Linked DNA regions of Homo sapiens. The protein of the gene in region 3 purifies or fractionates together with the protein of the main gene of each other region. This does not show direct contact. Each region holds a gene or a part of one and is shown on either strand. Other genes may lie near its edges. The genes, in order: GAP43, CSNK1G3, SLC25A41, CTH, STON2, AIDA and CTSH.

Region 1 (2,237 bases), on a different chromosome or scaffold from region 3:
TTTTTGTAAAGATAGGGTTTCACCATGTTGGATACACTGGTCATAAATTAGTGTCTCTTATGGGCTGAATTGTGCCCTATCCCCCAAATTTATATGTTGAAGCCTTAAGCTCCAGTACCTCAGAATGTGACCTCATTTAAAAATGAGGCTTTGACAGAGGCAATTAAGTTAAAGTGAGGTCATTAGGGTGGGCCCAACTCAGTATCACTAGTATCTTTACAAAATGGGGAAATTTGGACACAAAGACAGGCATAAAGGGAAGATGTGAAGAGGCACAGTTAAAAGATAGCCACCCATAAGCCAAAGAGACAGGCCTGCAACAGATGTCTCCCTCGAGGGCCGGAGCTATTGGTCTTGACCAGAGCCTTAGGCTTCATCTGTGTTTTCTTTATCAGGGTTGCTGATGTAAAACTGAGAGAAGAAAAAGATGAAAATGTAAGACCCTAGCATGTCCAACCAACTAATGAGAAGGTAGAACAGAAACACAGAGCCATTGGACCTTGATTACTCTCATGATTTATTAATATTCGGGTTGAAAAAGGAGCCTTAGAGCCGCAAGTTTACGCTAATTGGCACATTTGCTTTATTTATTTATTTTTAAAACAAACTGGGTTTTTTGAATTTTTTCCTTTTTGTTCATTCCATCACATTGAAAAGGAGGAAAACAAAAATGATTTTGAATTCACTCGATATTTTGGACTCCTCAGATGAACGGAACATTGCACACACACTTGGAACAGAGAGAGAGAGAGAGAGGAAAGTGGACTCCCACAGGGCCACACGCACCAGATCAAATAACTTGGATACAGTGCAAGAATTTCCCAAAATGATTGAATCATCATTACCAAAAACTTGCCATAACAACACCAAGAAACAAAAAATGTTTAAGCCACACTGTTTGACTTGGGATCTTTCCTGCTTTTTTTTTTTTTTTTTAAATGTTTGCCACACAGAGAGAAAGAGGGCTAGTGGGTGGGAAAGGACAGACTCACAGACGTGAGCAGGACAGGAAGGGACTTCAGAGTGGAGCTGAGAAGAGGGTAGGGAGAGACAGGCTCAGGAGAGGGGAGGGTGGGGATGTGGAAAGCCATTTCTTAGAGTTCAGGCATGTTCTTGGTCAGCCTCAGGTTCCTCTTCTTTACCCTCGTCCTGCCGGGCACTTTCCTTAGGTTTGGTTTCATCTACAGCTTCTGAGAAAGAAAACAAGATAGGATGGGGGGAAAAGGAGAGAATTAGTATTTTGTCTTATCTGCTCATACAACAGTGCAATGCATTTCTTCTTTTTATGTCATTTCATAAGAGCATTAAGATTAAAAGAGATTATTAATATCCCAGTTAATGTAGGTTACAAGTTCAGAAGAGTTTACCTCAAGGAAGCTGTTCAGTGGCACCTATGGAAGAACTCAGGAGCAAAGGTATGTGAGTGACAAGGAGACCACTTAACAAAAGTTACTATGGTCTTTAATCTCTCAGCCTTACAATCAAGGTATCCACATACAGGATCTTCACATAGGGAATCAACGACAATCTTGTATTGCTGTTCTATTAGTGTCAGAAGAATTGTGACAGATAATTTATGTGGACCATCGATCATCTAGTCCAAGTTTCTTACCACTCATTTCCAGTATTGAAAAGTGAAGTAGTTGAATTTTCAGCTCCTGTGGGACAGTGCTAGTCAATTATATAGAAATTGAAGTCCCTAGAGAGGGCAGAGTTGGGTTTTGCCCTTCACATTCTCCTATTCCTGATCACTTGGACATCAAACAATACATGGCACTGTAGCAGCTGCCTTGTGACCATGAAGACAAAAACTATACACTAAGGATGGTGGAGCAAAAAGAAAAAATCATCACTGAGTGACTGTACCACTCCTAGATATCTTTCCCTCAGAAACAAGTCACTAGCCTCTTTAAAGCATTGTAATATAATAGTTTTCAGTTTCTTGCAGCCAAGCACATTCCAACTGAATACACTTATCCACAGGGAAAGTACTGCTTTGCTTAACAGGGAGGATATCATGTCTTTTTGAAGAAAAATTTTCCCTTTGTTTCCCGACAGAACTCAGTCAACTGATTTTATGCTCCCTGATAGTTTACTAATATGCTAGCTTGTGGAAAAAGAATTCATTTGCTCTGAAACAACTTGTGTTGCCAAACAATCAACTCCCTGTGTCAGTGTCCCCCAAGACCACCCCTAGGTTCAGTGATTTGCTAGGAGGACTCATGGGACTCAGCATG
Region 2 (2,186 bases), on a different chromosome or scaffold from region 3:
ACATCCAAAGTTTTCTGCTTAAGGGAGAATGTAATCATTCAGCAGTAAGTTTCGGTGAGATTTCTTTAGGCTTCCACCTTATACACTGCAACAAGGTTCACATTTACTACCTCTCCTTAGTGTATTTCTTTATAACTCCAACATACATCACTTTTTAAAGTATTCATTTCTTGCTGTCTAACATACATTATTATTTGGAAGCATAAAGTTACATTGTACAAATATTTTGCATTTTTAAAAATAAGCGCTTTTGCCACTTCTGCAACACAGTACTTCACATAGTGATGCAACAAAAGCGGAGCACATATTTACCACACTCCTTAAGATTCATTTTACCACCACCATCTGCCGAACCCATATTGCTTTTTCCTCAGTACCTCTGGGCAGTGACTGTACCATGATTTCACGGAGAGAATGTTAATATGACTTATGAATAACAGTACCATCAGTAATACTGAAATCAATGCAGATGTCACAAAATATGAACTTCTCAAGGAATAACTTCTTTTAAATATTTGGGCAACTCTGTTTTCTCTGTTGTATTATCCACTGAGAAAAGAAAATTCCTGTTTGATTATGCTCTTACAGAAGTTATAAAAAACCAGATTAGGTATATAACTGGTTGACACTTAAGATACTGTACTGCTTTCTACAACAGAAGAACTTCTGGAAAATGTTCTATGGAACTATATTCATTGATACCACCTCATTGGTCCATTCCATTCACTGATGGGCAAAGCACTCATGTTTTGACAAAACTTTAAAGCTTCCATAAAGGTTAAATTAGAGAAAAAAAAAAAAAGAAAAAGAATGTAAGACAACCACAAAATGAAGTATGAAAGTATGACATTTTTGTTTCTAAGAGTGAGTCCTTGAAAATATACGTGGTCACTACAGAGATGATTTTAATCACAAGACAGCAGATGAACATGTAAGTAACTCCCCAGGATCTGTCTGTGTCCAGAGTCATTTGTGGCGCTGTATGGTTTTCCTTTTCCTTCGTTTGAAAAAACAGCAGCACCTGCAGATGAGGGAAACACTCTTTTTATTTTAAAAGCACTAAAATATCACAAAGTTGACTGTATCACTTTAACTTAAATGATCATAAAAAGCAACAGGCTAGTGCAAGATAAACAGTGATTACACCAATGAAGCATACGTATTAGTGAAAATATGGCAGAGCTATTACTATTATGTTTCATTCACATGCCTTTTAAGAATAGCAAGACATTCTATGCAACATAAAAAGGAGCCATTAAATTCAAAAGGTTTTTCACTAAGAGTAATTAAGAATTTCATTCTATGCATTCTCACCCTTTCTCCCTGATATTTATATGTGACTGTTGAAGCCATTAGGAAGGCAATAATGATCCTAACATTGGGGAGTTTATTCTCACCAATAATCAGTTTAGACTCCAAAAATAAAAAGACACTCCAATATACACTAGTCAACATTTTCCATCATATTAAAAAAGTGAAAGACAGAAAATACATTATATAGAATACCAAGACTGGCAATTTTGAATTCTTTAAGGGTTAAAGAAGGTCAAGCTTATTGAAAGTTTAGTTAAGGTAAAAACTATGCTTAATATTTAAAGTAGCACAATTGAGGTGATTCCATTTTACAAGTCAAAACTGTATATGCAAAAAAATATAATACTGACTTTTATTTCTAGGTGAAAAAAAATCTTGGCTGGGCACAGTGGCTCATGCCTGTAATCCCAGCACTTTGAGAGGCCGAGGCAGGAGGATTGCTTGAGCTCAGGAGTTTAAGAATTCAAGACCAGCCTGGACAATACAGCAAGACCCCATCTCTAAATATCTCTCTCTCTCTAACTACATATACACATACACAAATATCTCTAAATATATATATACACACATACATATATAAATGTACACACATATATTATATTATACATACATACGCACACACACACACACACACACATGCACTGGACATGGTGGCACCCGCCTGTTACCCCATCTCCTTGAGAGGCTGAGGCAGGAGGAATGTTTGATCTATGATTGTGCCACTGAACCCCAGTCTGTGTGACAGGGCAAGACCCTGTCTCTAAAAGAGGAGATGAACACATCAAGGCTGCTGTGGGAAAATGCTGTGGTCTGGTATGAACTGAAAAAATCACTGATCTGCTCCCACCAAAAAAAAAAAAGAAAAAAATTAA
Region 3 (3,946 bases):
CTACCATGGCAGGCTAATTTTGTAAAATTTTTTGTATAGATGGGGTCTTACTATGTTGCCCAGGCTGGTCTCAAACTCTTGGGCTCAAGCGATCTTCCCACTTTGGCCTCCCAAAGTGCTGGGATTACAGGTGTGAGTCACCATGCCCGACTCCTTTTTAAATTTTTAATTAATTAATTAATTAATTATTATTTTGTAGAGATGTGGTCTGACTATATTGCCCAGCTGGTCTCAAACTCCTAAGCTCAAGTAATCCTCCCTCCTTGGCCTCCCAAAGTGAGCCACTGCACCCGTTTATTTTTTCAGCCAGGGATCTCGCTCTGTCACCCAGGCTGGAGTTTGTGGCATGATCATGGCTCACTGCAGCCTCCAACTCCTGGGCTCAAGCAATCCTCCTGCCTCAGCCTCCTGAGCAGCTGAGACTATGGGTGTGAGATATCCTGCTTGAGGTAGCTCCAGTTCTATGTTGCCTTTTTTTTTTTTCTTTCTTTTTTGAGACAGAGTCTCACTCTGTTGCCCAGGCTGGAGTGCAGTGATGCAATCTCGGCTCACTGCAACCTCCATCTCCTGGGTTCAAGCAATTCTCCTGCCTCAGCCTCCTATGTAGCTGGGACTACAGGCACGCACCACCATGCCCGACTAATTTTTTTGTATTTTTAGTAGAGACAGGGTTTCGCCATGTTGGCCAGGCTGGTCTCAAACTCCTGACCCCAGATGATCTACCTCCCCTGGGCCTCCCAAAGTGCTGGCATTAGAGGCATGAGCCACTGCACCTGGCCCCTACCTTGTCTTTAAACTCGTCCAAAGACCCCATCCCCAATTCCCTGACCTCCAACCCCCACCTTGGCCCAGCGTTGGTCCCTGTCCCTGGCAAGTTCTCTCAACTCCTCAAACTCGACTCCAAGCCATGTCCACACCAGCTCTATCACCATCCACAACCTCAATCTCAGCTAGTCCAGGAGAGCCCAACTCCAGCCAGCACTCCTATCCTGAACTCCATCCACGTCAACTCCATCTGTCCTCACCCCACGTTCTCCCCAGTGGCTCCAGCGCTGGGTCCCGTCCTCCCCCCAACCCACACAAACCTGCATGTACACCTTGGCTCTGTCCAGAGGTGCCGTGCCCGTGCGAGACACCGCCCCGGCCATAGCTCCTGAGAGTAGAAACTTCCACAAGGCCTCCTTGTTATCCACTTCCAGGACTTCCACGGGGACCATCAGCTGCTCTCCTGTGTCCAGTACCTGCAGGGCAGACCCGGCCCTCCCTCATCCTCAGCCAGGTTGGGGCACCTTCCCCAGACACACATCTAGGGCACCCACCTGGTGAAAGACCCACCCTGTTCCCCCAAGTCTGCATTTTTTTTTTTCGAGACGGAGTCTTGCTCTGCTGCCCAGGTTAGAGTGCAGTGGCACAATCTCAGCTCGTTGCAACCTCCACCTCCCAGGTTCAAGCAGTTCCTGCCGCAGCCTCCTGAGTAGCTGGGATTATAGGCATGCACCACAACACCTAATTTTTTTTTTTTTTTTTTTTTTTTTTTTTAGTAGAGATGGGTTTCACTATGTTGGCCAGGCTGGTCTCTAACTCCTGACCTCAAGTGATTCAACCCTCCCCCCTGGTTTTTTTTTGTTTTGTTTTTGTTTTTTTTTAGACAGAGTCTCACTCTATCGCCCAAGCTGGAGTACAGTGGTGCGATCTTGGCTCACTGCAACCGCTGTCCCCCTGGTTCAAGCGATTCTCGTGTCTCAGCTTCCCAAGTAGGGACAATGGTGTGATCTCGGCTCACTGCAACCTCCGCCTCCTGGGTTCAAGTGATTCTCTTGCCTCAGCCTCCCCAGTAGCTGGGATTACAGTGCCAACGTGCCGAGCAAATTTTTGTATTATTTTAATAGAGGCAGGGTTTCACCATGTTGGCCAGGCTGGTCTTGAACTCCTGACCTCAGGTGATCCACCTGCCTCAGCCTCCCAAAGTGCTGGGATTACAGGTGTGAGCCACCACACCCAGCCAATGTAATATAGACTCTCTAAGTTACTCATGGAGGATCCAAGGAGGAATACAAATGTAATTAGGACTATATCTAGACTCTTAATTTATTCTTATTTTTTGAGACAGAATCTCGCTGTGTTGCTCTGGCTTGAGTGCAGTGATGAGATCTGGGCTCACTGCAACCTCTACCTCCTGAGTTCAAGCGATTCTCCTGCCTCAGCCTCCTGAGTAGCTGGTACTACAGGCGCCAACCACCATGCCTGGCTAAGTTTTGTAATTTTAGTAGAGATAGGGTTTCGGCATGTTGGCCAGGTTGGTCTTGAACTCCTGTCCTCAAGTGACCCATCCACCTCAACCTCCCAAAGTGCTGGGATTACATGTGTGGAGCCATCGCGCCCTGCCTCCCTGCCCCACCCTGCTTCAAGGTGGAATTCTAGGTCCGCTAGCAGGGGAGTGGGCCTGTAGAGGGCGTGGGTAGCCTGGCCTCTCCCTGTAGTCCTGACCAGAGGTGCCGGGACACTGGTGTTTCCTAAACTCACCTGCTGTGACGGGAGATGTTCAAGGTTGTTGTCATGCATGTGGCCAAACGCGTACCCATACACGTGTGTACAGCCAGGGTTCCAGGATGGGGGTGGAGGCGGAGGTTGGGGGGGAGGCGGGGCTTTGATGAGTAAGGTCTTGACCCTCCTAAACAGTGTCTGGATCCTAGAGCAAGTGTTCTGAGGTTCCCCAGGCTGAGCGCCCATGGAGGAAGTTAGGACACCTGGCTTCAAATCCCTAAGCAGTTGTTTGCTGCTCCAGCTACCATGCGGGAGTGTCTAGTGGGAGGATTGTGTGGGGGACCAAGAGGAGGATGAAGTCACAAACGCCCCTGTGACCTTCCTAGGTGTGGTGGGCAGCGTGATGGCCCCCTTCCCCCAAGTATCCACCTCCTGATCCCCCAAACCAATAAATATGTTATCGTTATAAATTGAATTGTGTCCTGTCAAAATTATTATTATTATCGTTTTTTTTGAGACGGAGTCTCGCTCAGTCTCCCAGGCTGGAGTGCAGTGGCGCTATCTTGGCTCACTGCAAGCTCCGCCTCTGGGGTTCACACCATTCTCCTGCCTCAGCCTCCCGAGTAGCTGGGACTACAGGCATCCGCCACCACGCCCAGCTAATTTTTTTATTTTTTAGTAGAGACGGGGTTTCACCGTGTTAGCCAGGATGGTCTCGATCTCCTGACCTCATGATCTGCCCACCTCAGCCTCCCAAAGTGCTGGGATTACAGGCGTGAGCCACTGCTTCCGGCCGCAAAATTCTTATGTTGAAGCCCTATTTCCCAGTGGGTTGGAATTTGGAGACAGGGCCTTTGGGAGGTCCTCAGGGTTAGATGAACTCATGAGGATGGCCCCTGCAAGATGGAATTAGTTCCCTATAAGGAAAAGACAAACCAGAGCTCTTTCTCTCTCTCTGTCTGCCATGGGAGGACGCAGCAAGAAGGCATGGCAGGAAGAAATCCCTCAGCAGGAACTGAGCTAGCCAGCCACCTTAACCTTGGATTTCCCAGCCTCCAGAAATAAATGTCTGCAGTTTAAGACCCCGCTCTTTAGTGTTTCCTTATAGCAGCCTGGGCTGACTTACATTTGTTACATGGCAAAGGGGAATTAAGTTTGCAGATACAAATAAGGTTGCTAGGCCTGATGTGGTGGCTGACGCCTGTAATCCCAGCACTTTGGGAGGCCGAGGTTGGCAGATCATCTGAGGTCAGGAGTTCGAGACCAGCCTGACTAACATAGTGAAACCCAGTCTCTCCTAAAAATACAAAAATTAGCCAGGTTTGGTGGTGTGCCCCTGTAATCTCAGCTACTCTGGAGGCTGAGACAGGAGAATTGCTTGAACCCAGGAGACAGAGGTTGCAGTGGGCCGAGATTGAGCCATTGCACTGCAGCCTGGGCAACAGAGCGAGACTCCATCTCA
Region 4 (3,500 bases), on a different chromosome or scaffold from region 3:
CTTTCGGAGGCTGAGGCGGGTGGGTCATGAGGTCAGGAGATGAAGACCAACCTCCCCAACGTAGTGAAACCCCATCTCTACTAAAAAAGTACAAAAATTAGCTGTGTGTGGTGGCGTGCCTGTAGTCCCAGCTACTCTGGAAGCTGAGGCAGGAGAATCGCTTGAACCCGGGAGGTGGAGGTTGCGCCACTGCACTCCAGCCTGGCAACAGAGCGAGACTCCCTTTCAAAAAAAAAAAAGTCTGCTCAACTTGTCATAAACAAGGGCACATAGCAACAAAACTTTTAGAAGTTATTGTTGTTAATACTGGGAGCTTCTGAATCAGAAACAAAGGTGAAAGAGTGGTTGTGTTTTGTTATGTTATGTGAAGCAGAGGGAGAAAATTATAGGACTTCTAATTAATGTTCGAATCCTTGGTTCACAATCCGGTTTTGACACTCCCTAGGTACTATTGCATTTGGCTTCACTTTCCTCAAAGCCAGTCATAAGGATTAGTAGAATGACTGGATGAATATAGCTAGCAGGGTGCCATATATGTAAAAGGAGAATAATGCAATTTTTTTTTTTCCCGAGACAGAGTCTCGCTCTGTTGGCCAGCCTGGAGTGCAGTGGCACTATCTCGGCTCACTGCAACCTCCGCATCCTGGGCTCAAGCAATTCTCCTGCCTCAGCCTCCCGAGTAGCTGGGATTATAGGAATGCAAATTTTTAAAAAGTATTGTGTGGAGCTGTTTTGCCAGGAATTGCTCCCTATGCTTTGAGCCACTTTTGTAGAGCCAAGATGTGAATGAATGTTGAGCATTGGTAGGATGTGATCATAACTTCCTGTTGTATGCTAAATAGAACTTGAATCAGCCTGACAGATGGCTCACTCCTGTAATCTCAGCACTTTGGGAGACCAATGTGGGAAGATTGCTTGAGGTCAGGAGTTCAAGACCAGCCTGGGCAACATAGCTAGACTGCCTCTACAAAAAATAAAATTAAAATATTTGTTAGGCATGGTGACATGCACCTGTAGTCTTAGCTACTCAGGAGGCTGAGATCGGAGGATTGCTTAAGCCCAGGAGTTTGAGGCTGCAGTGAGCTATGATTGCCCCACCGTACTCTAGCCTGGGCAACAGAGTGAGGTCCTATCCTTAAAAAAAAAAACTTGTATCACTTAATCATTTATTTCTTAGGAAATGAAATACAGGTTAGAATTAGGTTTATTCTGTTGGCTCATGCAAGTCCCTTTTCCTAATGTTTCCAGATTAATGAAAAAAGGTGAGTCTAACATAATAAACATACTAATAATAAAAACTGTCATTTATTTAGTGATTAGCATGTGCCAGGAAACATGTAGTGAATTTGTGCATTATCTCATTTTATCTTCACAACAATTTTATGAACCAGATATCTGTATTTTATTCCCATTTTACAGATATTGAGATTGACTCTTGGAAATGTGAAGTAACTTACCTAGTGTCATGCAGCTCATAAGTGGCAGATACAGAATTCACATAGAGTTTGTTTGACTTCAGAGCATCTTGACTATAGCCACAGCACTGTTCTGCTTCTGTATTAAAGCAAGACATATCATGACTAAAGAATAGAAACTAATTATGGTAGGGTGAAACTATAGTTCTCTATGTTAGGACTCTGATAATAAACTGAAATCTCTTAGGATGAACTCGAACTTGTTTTTTTCAGGGTTTTGAATATAGCCGTTCTGGAAATCCCACTAGGAATTGCCTTGAAAAAGCAGTGGCAGCACTGGATGGGGCTAAGTACTGTAAGTAATTTCCATTTCACAGTCTAGAATCTATTTTTAAATGTATAGAGAAAACCATAGAGGCACAGAATGTGGAACTGAAAAGAAACAGATTTGCTAGTTCAAAATTCCTGTTCTACTGCCTTTGAATTCTTTGCCCAAGGTCCCTCAGTTGGTATAATATGCATATGTGTAATCATCAGGTAAAAATACGTATGAATAGAGGACAAATGAATAAAGGAAAAAATTCACACGAATACTACATTTATTAATACTACATTTATCATGTAGTATTCATGTGAAAACAATCTTCATCTGAAACTGTCAGTATAAATAAATAAATGGAAATTAAATTTAATAACACCACCTATTAGAATATAAAATCTTTTTTTGAGACAGGGTCTCTCATTCTGTTGCTCAGGCTGGAGTGCAGTGGCACAATCTCTGCTCATTGCAACCTCCTCCTCCAGGATTCAAGCGATTCTCCTGCCTCAGCCTCCTGAGTGGCTGGGATTGCAGGTGTGCACCACCACACCCTGCTAATTTTTTTTTTTTTTTTTTTTTGAGACAGAGTCTTGCTCTTGTCGCTCAGGCTGGAGTGCAATGGCAGGATCTCGGCTCACTGCAACCTCCGCCTCCTGGATTCAAGCAATTCTTCTCCTTCAGCCTCCCAAGTAGCTGGGATTACAGGTGCCTGCCACCACGCCCAGCTAATTTTTTGTATTTTTAGTAGAGATGGGGTTTCACCATGTTGGCCAGGCTGGTCTCGATCTCCTGACCTCGTGATCTCCCGCCTTGGACTCCCAAAGTGCTGGGATTACAGGAGTGGGCCACCACGCCCAGCCTTTTTTTTGTATTTTTAGTAGAGATGGGGCTATTTTGGCCAGGCTGGTCTGGAACTCTTGGGCTCAAGTGATCTGCCCACCTCGGCCTCCCAAAGTGCTGGGATTATAGATGTGAGCCACCACACTTGGCCTAAACTTGCTTATCCTCTGGTTTATTCACCTAATAATTTGTGCCTGAGAATAGCACTAAAGTTATTTTCAGTGGTCAATAACTCCTGATAATGTGCTGTCAGAGATTAGAGATTAACTCCCTAAACTTTTTTTTTTAATGAAGAGAGTCTTGTGTATTCATTGTGATTACACTTATCAGACAAATCTCAGGTCTGATTGCGAGTTTTGTTAAAATATTTACTGAATTGCATATTCATATAATTAACGTATGAATCATATCTTTGCTCTATTCTTTATGTTTGAAATTTCTCTTTTCTTTCTTTTTTTTTTGATATGGAGTCTCCCTCTGTCACCCAAGCTGGAGTGCAGTGGTGCAATCTTGGCTCACTGCAACCTCCACCTCCTGGGTTCAAGCGATTCTCCTGCCTCAGTCTCCCTCGTAGCTGGGATTACAGGCATGTGCCACCATGCCTGGCTAATTTTTGTATTTTTAGTAAACACAGAGTTTCACCCTGTTGGCCAGGCTGGTCACGAAATCTTGACCTCAAATGATCCACCTGCCTTGGGCTCCCAAAGTGCTGGGATTATAGGCATTAGCCACCACGCCTGCCCTGAAATTCCTTTAGTTTGCTATTTTTAAACTGTAGTTTAACTGGCAATAGGCCTTTTATCTCAGATATTTGTAAAGAATTATTTTCTTGAAGTGTTTCAGAGAAATATTATTACCAAGGCAAAATTGACTTAACACAAAAGTATCTGTCCACATTATATATTTTTTATTTTAAAGATATCTTA
Region 5 (3,500 bases), on a different chromosome or scaffold from region 3:
TTGATAGGGGAGGGCTGTACATCCTGCAGAGTCTCATTCAGGAAAGGGTTGGTTGCCCTCCAAGGTGAAGCCTCAGTTACAGAAGGCGTGCGGTTTAAAGAGGAAATATCCAGCTTCTGAACTTTGGAGAAGTTCATCAAAGTGCTCTTGGGACGGTCCCTCTTCTTAAATGATCCCATTGAATTATAAGGTACATCTGGGATCACAGATGCACTTGGTGGTGTATTTGGCTTCAGAGGAGAGGTGACTGGTGGTAAAGGGCAGCTGACTTCATTGTCATCAAAGGTGACCCAGCTGGGAAAACGAGCAGAGGTCACTGGAGGGGCAGGGTGCCCATTCATGGCTGGACTGCTGGCCTGCCAGCTGATGGCCTCCATCTCTACTTCTTCATCTTCTTGAAGCGAGGAGGAATTGTCTAAAAGGAAAAGGAGAACATATGAGCTACTGTTCAGGGGCTCTAGAGGTAAGGAAAACTGAAGTATAGGAATGAGGGATTACTAGAATTTTAACTGGAATCCAGTACATTCCAAAGCAGCTCATTATCTGTTTCAAGTGCTTAGTCTGGGCATAGATCTCACAATTCTGTAATGAGCACCCCAGAGGAGCTATCGCATTAAGTGCAATAAGAACCCAATGGCTATATCAATACAGAAGTATTGACTGGTAGTACCAAGGTCTCTTGCAATTTATATACTCTTCCTTATTTTATAAAAGCTTCTGGAATAGATGTGTTCTGTACTTAGCTTTGAGGAATGTGTTCTTAATTTTTAAACATTGAAAGCCATCTCCTATATAAAATGATATAAGCTCATCTCACTGAAAAAAACCAAGTTATCGTCTGTAAGTGATAATATGATTATAAATAATATTCTTGGAGGGATTTTAGCCTAAACATAATGAATAAATATTAAAGACAAACAGTTAACCTTCTTAATATTCAGTAGGTTCATACATGTGAATAAGAAAAACACAAAAACCCCAAAAGAAGTCTGAGTAAAGAACATAGACAACTCATGAAAGAGAAACTAAAAAATGTCTAGTAAGTATGTGAAAAATATCGAATCTCACTAGTAATAAGAAAAATGGCCGGGCACAGTGGCTCATGCCTGTAATCCCAGCACTTTGGGAGGCCGAGGTGGGCAAATCACGAGGTCAGGAATTCGGCACCAGCCTGGCCAACGTGGTGAAACCCAATGTCTACTAAAAATACAAAAAAATTAGCTGGGCGTAGTGGCAGGCACCTGTTATCCCAGCGGCTTGGGAGGCTGAGGCAGGAGAATCACTTGAACCCAGGAGGCAGAGATAGAAGTCAGCGGAGATTGTGCCACTGCACTCCAGCCTGGGCAACAGAGCGAGACTCTGTCTCAAAAATGAAAAATGAAAAAAAAAAAATCAGTGAAGATTTTGAAAGATTTTAGTGCTCAATGAGGGTAAAGGTGCCATAATAGGAGCACTAAGTGGATGCTTAGTGAAACTAAGTTGCAACAGATGCTCTGAAAAGAGATTGGGCAATTTATATTAAGGATCTTAACACATGTTAATAAACAATGACTTAGTAATTCTACCCTAAGAAAATAAATCTAAATTATGAACCAAGTTTGAAGAACAGAGATGTCCATTTTGGCATTATTTATAATAGGGAAAAATATTTTAAATATTCAACAATTGGGTGAGTGTTAAGAAATTGAAGCCTACAATAAAATAATACCCACCCACTAAAATGTTTACAAGTAGGCAGTATATCAGGAGAAAATGCTCATGATATAATCTCCTTTTTTTCTCTAAAATATTTTTCCATCTCGAAGTTTATTTTTTATGATAAAAAGGTTATTACAAATAAAACTCCACTTTAGCAGGGCCTTCAAGGAAAGAGATACAGGACTTGGGTTTGATGAGGGCAAGATCTAAACTTTTTCAGTAACCTAAGGACCGTGGGTATCTGCTGGGGCTGTGGGAAGGGAGGGGAAATGAGGCTTTTAGCAAGGAGGAATGAATTCTGATGAAGGAACAGCACAGACAACAAATGTGTGCATATAGTAGGTACTCAATAAGGTTTTTTGATTAAATAAGTGAGAAAAGAAACTTTGCTTTAGAGTAGCTCTTCCATTCTCTACGTCTCTGCAGGAATGGGTATAGGGGATCTCTGCTACCATCCTACCCACTGTTTCTATGGCCAGTTGTTTGGAATCAAAGGGAAATGGATACTCAAATGACTGAGTTTTCTGACCACCTCACTACATCTTCATGCATATCACATCCAACCACACCCATCAGCAATGCCGCACATAATTGCACATAATTATACAAGGATGGGATGCTGGCTTGTCACCCATCTTTCCAAGTAATTTATTCAAACAGATAGCAATTCTCTCAAATGAAAACGTAAGTTTGAAAATGTAGGCTAGGCCGGGCACGGTGGCTCATGCCTGTAATCGCAGCACTTTGGGAGGCCGGGACGGGCAGATCACTTGAGGTCAGGAGTTCAAGACCAGCCTGGCAAAAATGGTGAAACCCTGTCTCTACTAAAAATACAAAAATTAGCTGGGCGTGGTGGCACAAGCCTGTAATCCTAGATATTCGGGAGGCGGAGGCAGGAGAAGTGCTTGAACCTGGGAGACAGAGGTTGCAGTGAGCCGAGATGGCGCTACTGCACTCCAGTCTGAGCGATAGAGCGAAACTCCGTCTCAAAAAAAAAAAAAAAAGAAAAGAAAAGAAAATGTAGGCTGTAGGCTAAACACGAGTATGCATATACATATACACATATCCATACCCACCCCAGAAACAAAATGAGCGAAAAGCATTTTCTATATCTACAGTGACTAAAAAGGATTCTAAAGCATTTTTAAATTAAAGATGAGAATCTCCTTCAAATTAAGCATGAATCCAGTTTTGTATAAGTGATTAATTTTCTGAAAATCGAAGGGAAAACGGTCAGGAAACAACCTACACTTACAGTATTTATATTTTATTTATCATTTTGGTAACAAAGTCTAAAAGGAACATTGTGGTCCTGAGTGAAATATAATCACTTCCTTGGAATGGTAATTGATCCTGTCTAGAGAACTGGGAAAGGGGTACATCTCAAAACTCATCAACTTCTAATGAGGCAGCTCTAGAGAGCCTTTGTGATGTAGTGTTTCCACCCAAACAATCTCTATTGGCCCACCCCTGGCATCAGGGTTATCCTTTTTGTCTTGGAGCTCACCCTGTAGTTTAAAACAAGCTGAAGTCCTTTTTCTTTGGAGGGCGGCTTTCTGCCAAAGCTGTTTACACTTGCCACCAAAGGATTCCCTTCTGTTGGGAATCTTGTCCTCAAAACAGCCCTTCTCATCTTCTAAGCCAAAAATGAAAAGAGAAAAAAAGGCCTTTGTCCCTACTGAAGATCATTTTCTTACAATAAATTCCTTTTCAAACCAAGTTAGTTTAAATCACGCCAAGTCCTAAACAGTTTTGAAGCATTAGAGTTATAATACAAATTAAACAAGTGTCTTTAAATTTGA
Region 6 (3,500 bases), on a different chromosome or scaffold from region 3:
AAATTGTATATTTTTGTTGTTGCTGAGCTATTGCTGAACTCTCCTTTAAAGGGACTATTACCACTTTCTATTCCCACCAGTGATAAATGAGCCCATTTCCCTGTTGTCTCAGCAACAGGGAACTGCCATATAAGGCATCTGCATGTCTTTTATCATATGTAAAGTTGAGTATCTTCTAATACATTTAAGAGCTATTTGTATATCTTGGGGTGTGTGTGTGTGTGTGTGTGTGTGTGTGTGTGTGTACTATCTGTTCATGTCTTTTGCCCAATTTTCTAATGTGTTTGGGGTCTTTGTTGTCACAACTTAAAATTTTCTTTATATATTAAGAATATTAGTCGTTTGTCATTTTGATTTTGATTATGGTGTTTTCTGACAGACAAAAGAGACAAGTTCTTTTTATGATAGACTATTTTCTCCCAAGTAAACATTAAAAATTCTTCTACCTTTAGGTGAATCAGTTTCATAACCTGTAATTGTCTAGATCTTTTAGTTGAAATAATGAGGCTGACATTTCTTTCTTCCTTACCAACAAACTTTTTTTTTGCCTGAGAATATAATAAGGTTTAATCTAACTACTAAATATATTTCTAACAATGTAATATGGAGGCAGTGATTCCAAGCTGGAAAGATACTTAATTTATTCAGTTCTTCCCTAATTCAAGGTAGAACATAAAACATTTCATCTCCACCATGAAGGTTCAGTAGTTTTATCTTTACTAAGGAACAGCTGAAGCTATGTGATTAAGACGACAGGTAATAGAGAAAGGTGTATTTCTCAGTGGTTTCTAATGTGCTCTCTCCCTGCCTAGTCAACTCCTACACTCCCTTTGAGTCTCAGTTCTGGCTAGATTACCTTTGCTAAACTCTGTCAGTCCTTTTTTCGTTCACTCATAATATACTGTGTCCACCTCTAACCATGATGATGTACTTTTTTTGGCTCTGTCTTACATGGTGAGCATCCTGAAAGACGGGATGAGTAACTGTTCATTTTTGTATTGTTTTCACTAGTAATAAAGAGATCTTTGTTTTAGAACTCTTTTATCATTTGTTGAATGATAAATGAATTTTACAGTTCTAGAGGTTATTATGCTCTATAAACATGTGGCCTGAAAACATATATCAATGTACTGCCTTATATAATATGCACGAAAGAAGATAAAATACTAGGATAATACCACACCATTCCAGGGTTAGATGAAAAAGTTAACATATTTGTGTATCAAAGATAAAAACATACAATAATTAAAAATCAAGGCAATGTATTAAAAGCAAGATTTCTAAAAGAAGAATGAACACATTCAACTGTATAGAGTAATATGAGAATAAGTAACTACATTTATAAAACTTGAAGACTGTAACTGAAGTAAGAAAAGAAATCATACATGAGCCATGAAAAACTGCGTGTTTCCAGCTAGATCATTTGCTGTTAGATCTAAAGTGAGGATCAGAAATAATAAATGTTCTTCCATATGGAAAAGCTGCATAAATAATAAACAGCCAACTTTTACAGAACATGTCAGGGTGTGCCAGGCACTGTTCTAATCCTTTACATGTACTAACTCATTTAATCCTCCCAACAACCCTATAACACAGGTGCTATAGCACCCTATAACAAGGTGTCCCATTTTTTCAGAAGTGAAAACTAAGACAGAAAAGTTAAGTAATCTGCCCACAATCATATAGCAGTTTGGCACGGGATTCCATGCTTGTAACCACCACACCTCATTTGGCCATTTCTTCATTGTCCATAGAGCCTACACAGGAGCTGTGAAATGACCTCCCCATCTCAAGGTCCTTCACATAATCACATCTGCAAAGTCTCTGTTGCCGTGTAATGTAAGAAACATATGCACAGATTCTGAGGATTGGGATGTGGACATCTTTGGGAAGGGATGCATTATTTCTGCCTCACACTTCTAAATATGAAAAGCTCTGTATGGCTACAACTGTCTAAATCAAGATTTCTCAACCTGGGTTCTGTGGAATCCCAGGGTGTCCCTGAACTCGCTAGGAGCTCCACGCAAAAGAGTGATTTCTATCAATGCACTGCCTTTAAATATGCACTAAAGACAATAAAATACGAGGATAATACTACACCATCTGCAGCCCCTGCAATGGGCTTTGTACACTGAGCAATGCAGGTTCACAGTGATGGAAAGAGACTATGCAGCCCCTATAGCAATTTTATTATAGGTCTTTGAGCCTCATATGGCAGTAAGCAGTTAAGATTATGTTCACTTGACTTGGTCCATTTAGTATTTTTTTTTTCAGGAGACAGGGGAAGCCACTGGTAGCTGATGAGCTCTATACAGCAGTCTGACGTCAGCCTCTTCAGCTTTACCTGCCCCAACCTTCCCTTATGCACCAACAGCTGAAGCAAACATGCTCTACTTGTAGCAAAGAAAACTGGAGGAAATTTTTCAATTCAATGTGATTTCTAAAGAAGAGGTATGAGCTAGGAGAGGAAGGTTCTAAGCCTAAGCATAGAGACAATTCTCCCTAAGTAAAAACAATGAATTTCAAGCTTCTGAATCATTTCACTGCACTAGTGCACTGGGAAAAACAAAAAAGTCCATTTAATGATGAGACCTACTTATTAATATGGTTGTACCTGGATGGATAATTTCCAAGTTGCCTCATCTGTGAAAAACACTTTATCAATGCAGCAATGGATCCAACAAAATCGAGAAATCGCAACTACAAGTCACAACCATTGATAAGTAAAGACACCGATTATTTTGATATCCTAATGGCCATTTAAAATAGAGTAAAGCTTTTTTTTTTTCTAAAGTAATGTTCACTTAAAAAAGGCTCAAAAAGGAAATTACTTAGTAGCAGAGCTTAATGCCCAGAGGAAGAAAAGTCACACAGTGGGCAAGGATCTCATAATGCCTGCATGTGAAATTACAAGACGTTTTTAGCACAAGATATAGTATAAGAAATTTAAAAGGCTCTATTCCCAAACCGCGCAATAAGTGGACACAAGAGATGACTTTTCATATCCTGAAGAGGTTTTGTGATAAACTATAAAAAAAAAGCTTCTCTATTGAGTCTAAAAATTTTACCAATAAATGACATGCTATAGCATTTGTAAGGTCTATAAAGAATGGTGTACTCAAGAAAACTGTTTCTGCTGTGAAGTCCCCAAACAAGCAAAGGCCAAGCTGGATTTCACGCCCTGTCCTCACGTGTACCTCTGAGGAACTGCCCTGGGCTGTACACTGTGGTGTCAAACAGAAAACGCTGACACTGTCAACTCATGGCTTTCTTCACTGAAGTGCTGCTATCAAAATTCTCACAAATAAAATGAAAACTGGTTCTAGGTATCAGAGAAATGGCTAAGTTTATTCAACAAAGACCAGTTCACTCAAGAATGTTTTGAAAATTGGCCGGGCATGGTGGCTTACACCTGTAATCCCAGCACTTTGGGAGGCCAAGGTGGGTGGATTACCTGAGGTCAGGAGTTTGAGATCAGCCTGGCCAACATGGTGAAACTC
Region 7 (3,500 bases), on a different chromosome or scaffold from region 3:
ACTGGTCCCTACCCACCTTCCGTGGACTGGCGGAAAAAAGGAAATTTTGTCTCACCTGTGAAAAATCAGGTATGCCTGGCAATCTCCATCCTCTCCCTGCAAAACGGCCACACTCCCAGACAATACACCAGGAAGAACAACTCAAAAGGTCCACAAAACCACCACAAGCACATCCCTGCCTCTGTTTCCTCTCGGCATCTCTCCAGCCCTCTTCCTTTGAGGGGCCAGGGAGGTCAGCACTTCTCTAGGCTGCTCTGGAGGATGCAAAAGTTCCTCTTTATTGGGCTAAAGTTTACTCCCTTCCTTCCCCACGCCCCAGATTTTCCCATTGGTCCCAGGTCTCTCCTACAGAGCCATCCAAAACGTTATGTTCCCTGTGCCCATCTGGACACCAGAACCCCATGCATCTCCTCTTCCCGCCTCCATCTTCTCCGAGCCACCAGGGTCCAGCCCCTGCCCTGGCTGGCCGCCTCCCTCTGGTTAGTCCATGTGTCATGCATCAGCAAGCTTCTCATGGCAGGGGCTGGCCTCCGTGGCCCTTGCTGTGGGGCACAGAGGGCTTGGCAAGGTGAGAGGCCCTGCCTTCCTCCATGGGGGAGCAGTCTGGGGGCATCTCAGCACAGGCCCTGTCCCAGAGAGTCTGGACCCTGCCCCCGCTGTTCTCCCGGCCTGCTGCGGCCCCTCCCCTAGCAGGGAACCTGCCGTGGCCTTCTTCAGAAGGATGCCGACCTCTGGACTCTAGGAAATATGAGGTGAAGGTTTCCTTCCTGGAAACTCCTGGCTTTCCATCGAAATTCTCCATGAGAAATGTTTTTTCACTTTCCAAAAAGCCATCCATGCAGCACAGCTTTAAAGCCTCCCGGGCTTGCAGTGTTCCTGGAGCCTGCCAAGTGCTGGATGTTTAACTAGCATCAGGAGCCAAAGCAAACCTCCCCTTGCAGCAGGAGGTGGAGTAGAAGCCTGCCTTTGCCCCGTGACATTTTTAGACCCTCTGAGAACCACATGACAATTCAGAGCAACACGTAACCTAAACCTGCCCACCACTTGGACAGGTGGGAAAGAGAGGCCCACCAAGAATTTTCCAAGTCCTCCTGTTAACTGATCCTGGGCCATCAGGCAGGACGCAGCCGGCTGGGCTAAGGGAGCGGAATGAGGTGCTTCCTGACGCAGATGTGTGCCGTCTCTTACTGTGGCCGCTGTGTGGGGATAGAGACGGACAGCAGCCACAGCGTCCATCAGCTCAGCACCCTCCTTGAGAGTTTCTCACTTTACAGAGGGAGAGCCTGAGAGGGAGGGTGGTTTGCCTGAGGTCCAAGGTAAGTAAGTGACAAAGGGGACTCAAAACCAGGCCCCTGCCCCAAGTCGAGCACCCAAGGGTCAGCCGAGCTCCGCCTCCTTCAGCAGTGAGCTTAGTCTCCCCCGAAGTGGCCACGTCTGCCTCGTTGACTGTCTCATGGACCCTCTCACCAGGCCGTCCCTCCCTCCCCCAGCTGAGAGAGATATGTGAAGGGAAGAGATTGGGTGAGGCCAGTGTCAACCTAGGGTGATGACCTGGGAGGCAGGTAGGGGACTTAAGAGACATTTCAGAAGTAGAAGCTGGAAGACTGAACCAGCAAGGTGAGGAAACAGAGATGAACCTGAGAGAAATCCTTACAGCAGCCACCAGCATTGTGCCCACGGGGGTGACTGCCTGACCAGCAGAATCTGACTTAACCCTGCTAGCGCCCTGCAAGCAGGAACCCTCGCCATTCCCACTTTACAAGCAATGAAGCCAAGGCTTCGAGAGGGGAAGTGACTTGCCCAGGTCACCCACCTGGTGTGTGGCAGAGCTGGGATGTGAACCAGGCAGGCAGGCTGCAGCCCCCCACACCTAATCCTCATGTTATTCTGGAGGTGTTGTGAATAAGGGGGCTAGGCAGCGGCAATGAACTGTTAGAAGGTGGGGAAATGGGTGGATGGGGCGGGTCCCCCAGAGTCTGGGGTGTCAGGGGTGTCTGGGTGGGGTTGTCTGGCAGTTAGTTGGATGTCTGAGCCTAAGTGGAGGTCAGCACTGGGCTAGGGTTTGGGGAGCTGTTAGTTTAACAGGACTGGGCAGAAGAGACTGGAGGTGGAAAGGTGAGAGAAGGTTCTAAAAACAGAACTTTGGGGCATCCTTCTGCAGGGAACCAGTAGGGAAAAGAGGAGCCAGTGAAGATCGAGAAGGAAGAGAGCCAGAAGACTGCAGAATGGGGTGGGGGACTCCAGGCCCTGGCAGAATGGTGGGGATTGGCCACCAAGAGGTGGTGATTGGGAGTCCACAGGCACTGGTCAGAGGCCACCTGCTGCTCCTGCTCCTTTGCAAGCCTCTCAGGACTTGCGAGGCTCAGAATGAATGGATCTGGAACAGGGCTTGCGAGCCTCAGAATGAATGGATCTGGAACAGGGCCTGCGAGGCTCAGAATGAATGGATCTGGAACAGGGCTTGGTAAACTGCCAAGGCACCTGGGGACTCGGGAGCTCTGGCAGGGTCAGCAGAGGAAGGCAGAAGGCAGGGCTGTCTCACGGCGTCCCCATCACTGATGTCCTCTGCTCTCCCCTGGCCTTTCCAGGGTGCCTGCGGCAGTTGCTGGACTTTCTCCACCACTGGGGCCCTGGAGTCTGCGATCGCCATCGCAACCGGAAAGATGCTGTCCTTGGTAAGAAATCAGCCACAGGCGACCCCCTGCGGAGGACACCCCATCCTGATGTGGGCCAGGCCTGGGCCTTTGGTTTCCCTGGAGCATTGGCTAAGGGTGCTGTTTCAGGTGGACCCAGATGCCCCAGCCTTGTGGACATCTGGCATGAGAATCTCAATTGATGCTTTTCCCGGGAAGGATCTGAGTTTATTAAGGAACCGGCCCAAGGGCTCATTCCTAGATGGATCTGGGTGGTCCTTAGCTTGACAGCCTGGAGCCTTCCCGGCGGAGGGGTTCAGAAAGGCGGAGCCTGCCTGGTGGGTAGCCAACTAGGAGCTACACCCTTCCCAGCAGCCTCAGTTGTCTTCATGAGGGAAGAGCCGGGACCTATGCATCCATCCCCTCGCCCACAAGAGACGGATGATGCCCCTGAAGGAACTATCCTAGCCCCTGCCTCTGTGGAGAAAGGAGGGACAGTGCACAGCCGGCCTGGTGATGCCATGAGGACCCTGGGTTGTGGACAGGTGGGGGTAGGGTCTCTGGCTGGGCCTGTTTCCCCCATCCTATACACCGCTGTGGGACCCCACACTCTGCATCGTATGGGCACACCTACGGGGCAGGGGTTTGGACCCAACAGCCCTTGCCCCCTCTCACCTTCCCTGGCTGCCCCTGCTTACTGAGCCCCTCCCGACATGTGCCAGCTGCTGGGCTGGCACTGCAGGACATACAGCAACTGTCCCTGCCCTTGGGGAGTTTATAATTTGGTCACCTTGACACAGCACTGACGGGGCCTCAGATGTGGCTCAGCCAGGGAGGCTTAGCGCCTCACGCCAAAGCCTTGACGGC

Evidence for each region.
Region 1: the proteins of SLC25A41 (region 3) and GAP43 purify together in Homo sapiens (affinity purification with mass spectrometry; 3 studies listed by BioGRID and IntAct, with this or other methods). This does not show direct contact.
Region 2: the proteins of SLC25A41 (region 3) and CSNK1G3 purify together in Homo sapiens (affinity purification with mass spectrometry; 3 studies listed by BioGRID and IntAct, with this or other methods). This does not show direct contact.
Region 4: the proteins of SLC25A41 (region 3) and CTH purify together in Homo sapiens (affinity purification with mass spectrometry; 3 studies listed by BioGRID and IntAct, with this or other methods). This does not show direct contact.
Region 5: the proteins of SLC25A41 (region 3) and STON2 purify together in Homo sapiens (affinity purification with mass spectrometry; 3 studies listed by BioGRID and IntAct, with this or other methods). This does not show direct contact.
Region 6: the proteins of SLC25A41 (region 3) and AIDA purify together in Homo sapiens (affinity purification with mass spectrometry; 3 studies listed by BioGRID and IntAct, with this or other methods). This does not show direct contact.
Region 7: the proteins of SLC25A41 (region 3) and CTSH purify together in Homo sapiens (affinity purification with mass spectrometry; 3 studies listed by BioGRID and IntAct, with this or other methods). This does not show direct contact.

Annotation. Positions count from the first base shown.
Region 1 is NC_000003.12:115,719,747-115,721,983, reverse strand, and holds the end of GAP43 (neuromodulin), read right to left. Parts: intron 1,191-2,237; coding exon 1,102-1,190; 3' UTR 501-1,101; downstream 1-500. UniProt on the Homo sapiens protein: This protein is associated with nerve growth. It is a major component of the motile 'growth cones' that form the tips of elongating axons. Plays a role in axonal and dendritic filopodia induction.
Region 2 is NC_000005.10:123,613,177-123,615,362, reverse strand, and holds part of CSNK1G3 (casein kinase I isoform gamma-3), read right to left. Parts: intron 1,022-2,186; coding exon 967-1,021; 3' UTR 1-966. UniProt on the Homo sapiens protein: Serine/threonine-protein kinase. Casein kinases are operationally defined by their preferential utilization of acidic proteins such as caseins as substrates. It can phosphorylate a large number of proteins. Participates in Wnt signaling.
Region 3 is NC_000019.10:6,430,964-6,434,909, forward strand, and holds the start of SLC25A41 (mitochondrial carrier protein SCaMC-3L), read right to left. Parts: upstream 2,801-3,946; 5' UTR 2,731-2,800; coding exon 2,524-2,730; intron 1,242-2,523; coding exon 1,086-1,241; intron 1-1,085. UniProt on the Homo sapiens protein: Calcium-independent ATP-Mg/Pi exchanger that catalyzes the electroneutral exchange of Mg-ATP or free ADP against an hydrogenphosphate and participates in the net transport of adenine nucleotides across the mitochondria inner membrane.
Region 4 is NC_000001.11:70,414,268-70,417,767, forward strand, and holds part of CTH (cystathionine gamma-lyase), read left to right. Parts: intron 1-1,688; coding exon 1,689-1,770; intron 1,771-3,500. UniProt on the Homo sapiens protein: Catalyzes the last step in the trans-sulfuration pathway from L-methionine to L-cysteine in a pyridoxal-5'-phosphate (PLP)-dependent manner, which consists on cleaving the L,L-cystathionine molecule into L-cysteine, ammonia and 2-oxobutanoate.
Region 5 is NC_000014.9:81,278,325-81,281,824, forward strand, and holds part of STON2 (stonin-2), read right to left. Parts: intron 416-3,500; coding exon 1-415. UniProt on the Homo sapiens protein: Adapter protein involved in endocytic machinery. Involved in the synaptic vesicle recycling. May facilitate clathrin-coated vesicle uncoating.
Region 6 is NC_000001.11:222,677,992-222,681,491, forward strand, and holds part of AIDA (axin interactor, dorsalization-associated protein), read right to left. Parts: intron 1-3,500. UniProt on the Homo sapiens protein: Acts as a ventralizing factor during embryogenesis. Inhibits axin-mediated JNK activation by binding axin and disrupting axin homodimerization. This in turn antagonizes a Wnt/beta-catenin-independent dorsalization pathway activated by AXIN/JNK-signaling.
Region 7 is NC_000015.10:78,931,547-78,935,046, reverse strand, and holds part of CTSH (pro-cathepsin H isoform a preproprotein), read left to right. Parts: coding exon 1-69; intron 70-2,588; coding exon 2,589-2,675; intron 2,676-3,005; exon of another isoform or gene 3,006-3,450; coding exon of another isoform or gene 3,451-3,500. UniProt on the Homo sapiens protein: Important for the overall degradation of proteins in lysosomes.